2 separate regions of the Homo sapiens genome follow, and region 2 is linked to region 1. Evidence: fine-mapped expression QTL. A gene starts in region 1. The other region holds a variant in brackets. All regions are shown on one strand. Distances are from middle to middle.

The links. PIP is the estimated chance that this variant, and not a neighbour inherited with it, causes the effect. A credible set is the group of variants that fine-mapping cannot tell apart.
Region 2: its variant is the best candidate, but not a certain one, in a credible set for the expression of IL2RG in whole blood (TOPMed, PIP 0.70).

What each region holds. Positions count from the first base shown.
Region 1 is chrX:71,110,310-71,113,325 of GRCh38, reverse strand. It overlaps IL2RG (interleukin 2 receptor subunit gamma), which reads left to right and starts at 1,749. Exons shown (of 8, transcript NM_000206.3): 1 at 1,749-1,901; 2 at 2,276-2,429; 3 at 2,638-2,822. The coding sequence starts at 1,787. RefSeq lists enhancers at 1,597-1,986, 1,089-2,288.
Region 2 is chrX:71,152,910-71,155,409 of GRCh38, reverse strand. NLGN3 (neuroligin 3) reads right to left here. Exons shown (of 8, transcript NM_181303.2): 4 at 1,874-1,933; 5 at 47-196. Among named protein-coding and RNA genes, the nearest start is that of NLGN3, 9.3 kb to the right of the region's middle. RefSeq lists an enhancer at 1,728-2,227. The variant T/C (reference allele first, on the strand shown) is at 1,056.

The DNA.
Region 1 (3,016 bases):
TTATTTATTTATTTATTTGAGATGGAGTCTCACTCTGTTGCACAGGCTAGAGTGCAGTGGCGCAATTTTGGCTCACTGCAACCTCTGCCTCCTAGATTCAAGCGATTCTCATGTTTCAGCCTCCCGAGTAGCTGGGATTACAGGTGTTGCCACCATGTCTGGCTAATTTTTGTATTTTTAGTAGAGACGGGGTTTCACCAGGTTGGCCAGGCTGGTCTCGAACTCCTCAAGCAATCCACCTGCCTTGGCCTCCCAAAGTGCTGGGATTGCAGGCGTGAGTCACTGCACCCAGCCGAGAGAATAAATTTCTGTTGGTTTAAGCCACTCAGTTTGGGGATAACTTATGGCAGCCCTAGCAAACTAATACATACTAAAGATACATACTAAATACTAAGCTGGGCCATATAGTCCAGTTTTCCTGAGACTCCCAGGCAAGTGCTGTTTTTCTTTGCTTAATATCCTACACCACTTTCTGTCTGGTAAAATTACACTCATTCTTTAAGATGCCACTGAAATAGCACCTCTTCAGCACAGCCTTCACTAAACTATCCCCCTCTCCATCTTGGTAAATTTAGTTACTTCCTCTTCTGTGCTCACATACTTTGTAGTATCTCTACATTTATGCTATAGGACTTGTTACACTATGTTGTATTACTTGTTTATGTCTTCCCCACTTTTCTGTGAGTGTCTAGAAATATGAGGATGTCTTGTTGGTCTATTTCCAGAACATAAGCACAGTGCCTGGCACATATTAAAAACGTAATAAATGTTTGCTGAATAAATAGTTTCTGTAAGTGGCTTCTCCAATCACCTCTGTGTTTTCGGGGAAGGTAAAACTGGCAACAGGATGAAGAATGGATTAGAGAGCAGAGGGCCTTTAGAAAGGGAGGCCAGTTGATGGAGTCTAGATAGAATCATGACTAGAGCTAATGAAAGACTGATTTAGCAGAGTGGCTGTGGTAATGGAAAGGAGGAAACCGTTGGGAGAAACACCACAGAAGCAGAGTGGGTTATATTCTCTGGGTGAGAGAGGGGGAGAAATTGAAGCTGATTCTGAGGTTTCAAGTCTGGGTGACTGAGAGGGTGACGATACCATTGACTGAGGTGGGGAAGGCAGGAAGAGAAGCAGAGTTGGGGGAAGATGGGAAGCTTGAAGCTAGTATTGTTGTTCCTCCATTTCTAGAATATTTTTGTATTATAAGTCACACTTCCTCGCCAGTCTCAACAGGGACCCAGCTCAGGCAGCAGCTAAGGGTGGGTATTCTGGTTTGGATTAGATCAGAGGAAAGACAGCTGTATATGTGCCCACAGGAGCCAAGACGGTATTTTCCATCCTCCCAAAACAGTAGAGCTTTGACAGAGATTTAAGGGTGACCAAGTCAAGGAAGAGGCATGGCATAGAACGGTGATGTCGGGGGTGGGGGTTCAGAACTTCCATTATAGAAGGTAATGATTTAGAGGAGAAGGTGGTTGAGAATGGTGCTAGTGGTAGTGAACAGATCCTTCCCAGGATCTAGGTGGGCTGAGGATTTTTGAGTCTGTGACACTATTGTATATCCAGCTTTAGTTTCTGTTTACCACCTTACAGCAGCACCTAATCTCCTAGAGGACTTAGCCCGTGTCACACAGCACATATTTGCCACACCCTCTGTAAAGCCCTGGTTTATAAGGTTCTTTCCACCGGAAGCTATGACAGAGGAAACGTGTGGGTGGGGAGGGGTAGTGGGTGAGGGACCCAGGTTCCTGACACAGACAGACTACACCCAGGGAATGAAGAGCAAGCGCCATGTTGAAGCCATCATTACCATTCACATCCCTCTTATTCCTGCAGCTGCCCCTGCTGGGAGTGGGGCTGAACACGACAATTCTGACGCCCAATGGGAATGAAGACACCACAGCTGGTGGGAAATCTGGGACTGGAGGGGGCTGGTGAGAAGGGTGGCTGTGGGAAGGGGCCGTACAGAGATCTGGTGCCTGCCACTGGCCATTACAATCATGTGGGCAGAATTGAAAAGTGGAGTGGGAAGGGCAAGGGGGAGGGTTCCCTGCCTCACGCTACTTCTTCTTTCTTTCTTGTTTGTTTGTTTCTTTCTTTCTTTTGAGGCAGGGTCTCACTATGTTGCCTAGGCTGGTCTCAAACTCCTGGCCTCTAGTGATCCTCCTGCCTCAGCCTTTCAAAGCACCAGGATTACAGACATGAGCCACCGTGCTTGGCCTCCTCCTTCTGACCATCATTTCTCTTTCCCTCCCTGCCTTCATTTTCTCCCCAATCTAGATTTCTTCCTGACCACTATGCCCACTGACTCCCTCAGTGTTTCCACTCTGCCCCTCCCAGAGGTTCAGTGTTTTGTGTTCAATGTCGAGTACATGAATTGCACTTGGAACAGCAGCTCTGAGCCCCAGCCTACCAACCTCACTCTGCATTATTGGTATGAGAAGGGACGAGGGGGAGGGGATGAAGAAGAGGTGGGTTGGATCAGAGACCAAGAGAGAGGGTAGCAAGTCTCCCAGGTACCCCACTGTTTTCTCCTGGGGTAAGTCATAAGTCGGTTGAGGGGAGATGAGGCTAGGCTCTGGATATCTGCAGTACCCAGATTGGCCCCACTGTTCCTCTTCCTTCCAACCTTTCTCCTCTAGGTACAAGAACTCGGATAATGATAAAGTCCAGAAGTGCAGCCACTATCTATTCTCTGAAGAAATCACTTCTGGCTGTCAGTTGCAAAAAAAGGAGATCCACCTCTACCAAACATTTGTTGTTCAGCTCCAGGACCCACGGGAACCCAGGAGACAGGCCACACAGATGCTAAAACTGCAGAATCTGGGTAATTTGGAAAGAAAGGGTCAAGAGACCAGGGATACTGTGGGACATTGGAGTCTACAGAGTAGTGTTCTTTTATCATAAGGGTACATGGGCAGAAAAGAGGAGGTAGGGGATCATGATGGGAAGGGAGGAGGTATTAGGGGCACTACCTTCAGGATCCTGACTTGTCTAGGCCAGGGGAATGACCACATATGC
Region 2 (2,500 bases), 42 kb before region 1:
CTTGCGAAGCCAGTCTTCCTTCCAGGCACCAGGCAGGGAACCATACCTAGCACTCCAACCCGATAGTTGAGGGTGATGACGATGACATTGCCATAACTGGCGAGGATGCTGCCATCAATCATGTTGCCTGTCCCTTCCATGTAAGAGCCTCCGTGGATGTAGACCATGACGGGTTTAGCACCACTGTCCCGGATGTCTGCAAGGAGAAGGGGTGAGACACAGGCTGGGTGGGATGCCCTTGCTCCCCCACCCCTGCCAGCCCAGGGGGTGGGTGCGGGCAGCAAAGCTATCCCAGGTGCCAGGACACCACCGCCATCCCTGAGGGCAGGACTCATGGGGTTGCTCAACCTGGAGCTCAAGCATCAGCCCGAGACAGTGGGGCTTCAGTGATATTTTTAAAGGCTCTGGTTTCAAGTGCCTCCCAGCTGAAGGCAGCCAGGCATGTGATACAGCCAGGCCTCAGTGGGCCATGGCTGGGCCCTGGGGGCGGGGGGCAGCAGAAAGAGGAAGGGCTGGTCCTTTAGCCACATCAAGTGAGTCGCTGCCCTGGGCACCCAGGAGTCCTGGGACCTGACATGGCTTTAGAGAGCAGGAGCTGGGGAGCCCTGAAACCCCCAAGACTAGACCAGTTACATGGAAAAACGGCCATTGGCAGCAGCTGGCCCCCCAGTGCAGACAGAGACAAGAGGTGTGGGAATAAGGGGTGGCACAGGGAGAGAACAAGGAAGGATGTGGGAAAGGGGAGTGAATGGCAGAGATAGGGTGGGGGGAACCTTGTTGACATGGTTTCTTAGCCATGTGCCCATTTCCCCATTCTCCCTGGGCAGACTTAACCAGAAGCATTGGGGATGGGGAAGAACTAAGAATGACAGAGCCTGCTCCCAGTCAGCACCAAGATGAAGATGGAGCCTCCCCAGAGGCCATTCAACAAGGGACCATCAAGCGGCTGCTCCCGAGCCCAGGCGGCACGGCATCAGGGCTGGGGCAGTCAAGAGAAGGCTCCAGGCCTGATCACCTCTGCCTGTAGCCTGTCAGTCCGTGAACTGGACCAATAC[T/C]CTCTGCCATGCCAGCACAGCCCTACCCATCACCACTGGGCCCCCCTGAGCTGCCTGGCCCCTTCGGGGCAGAGGGGCAGGGCCAGGGCATGGAGGAGGAAGGGAATGCTCTCTGCTGCGGAGCAAACAGAACTTGTTTCTCCAAGGAGGAAGGCTGGTCCGATCATTGCCCAAGGATCTTATGCCATCTATTGATGGCTGTGGTGTCCTGGCCTCAGCCTGGCATTTTAGCCCAGTCTTTCTGGCCTTGTCTTGTACCTACTGCAGCCCCTAGCCCCGAGACCATCTCTCTCTTTTCTAGAAGGCTGGGGAGGTTCTGGTGCTGCTTTTCCAGCCCCTTTGGTTGTCACTGCCTCACTTCCCAGTTCACCATCCTGCGGGGCCCCTCTCCCAGAAGCCAGGCTCCCTGTGAGACACAGGGGTCTCTTCACTGAAACACAGGTAATCTCCTTGCCGTTCCGTTGTCTTTGTCCTCTCCCCGCCCTCAGTGGTCCTGCTTTCTCTCCACTCTCCCTGCTGCTCAGTAGGGGCAGGTGCCTCTGAACCACAGAAGATGGGGAAGGGGCGGGAGACCCAGGCAAGGAGGATGTCCTCCCCATGGCTCTGCTTGTGGTCCCCTGCTCCTGCCAGCCATGTCCATCACCCCGGAACTCCCAGTGGCCAACAGGGCCAAAGACAGATGAACAGCCCAACGGCCTTGTACAGGAACAGAAACACACCAACGGACAGACAGACAGACAGACGGGGCTTCTCCCCATCGAGAAGGGGAGGGGCTCTGTGCCATGCACCAGCCGCCGCGCCCTGCAGCCCCCAAATACCTTCATCTTCATCCCCGTCATTATCCGCTAAGTCCTCGCCCTGTTTCTTAGCGCCGGATCCTGGGGACCAGACACGGGGAGACACAACAGCACAGAACAGAGAACAAAACAGAGAGAGAATTCAAAAACAGCATGACTGCAGTGTGGCCCAGCAAGCCAGCTCCGGGCCTGGGCCCAGGACAGGCAGGAGGGATGGCAAGAACTGAGGGAATGGGTGGGCTGAGGCCCAGACCTTCATCAGGATGATGGTGTTGCAGGCCCCTGCTGTGCTGGCCTCTCTGCACCGCCTTGCCCCGCCTCCTTGTCCCCAACAGCCCATCTCAACCAACTACCTTTCCAGTGAGGAAGGAGGTAGCAGCAAGTGGGCCAGGGCACAGAGCCAGAGACCCTCTCAGGGGAAGGATTCATTCTGGGTGGAAGGGGCTGCTTGTGTGTACACAGGCAGGTCGAGCTGGAGAGCAGGGTCAGGTACCAAGGGTGAGGGGTGACACTGCCAGCAAGTGTGGAGGTTGTGGATACGAGGTACTTAGGGCAGAGACGTGTAGAGGGACCCCAGGCCTGAGCTCCTGGGGCCCAGTGGGCAGGCTCAAGCTGGGCCTCAGCTGACCCTGATTCCCACAGGAGAAA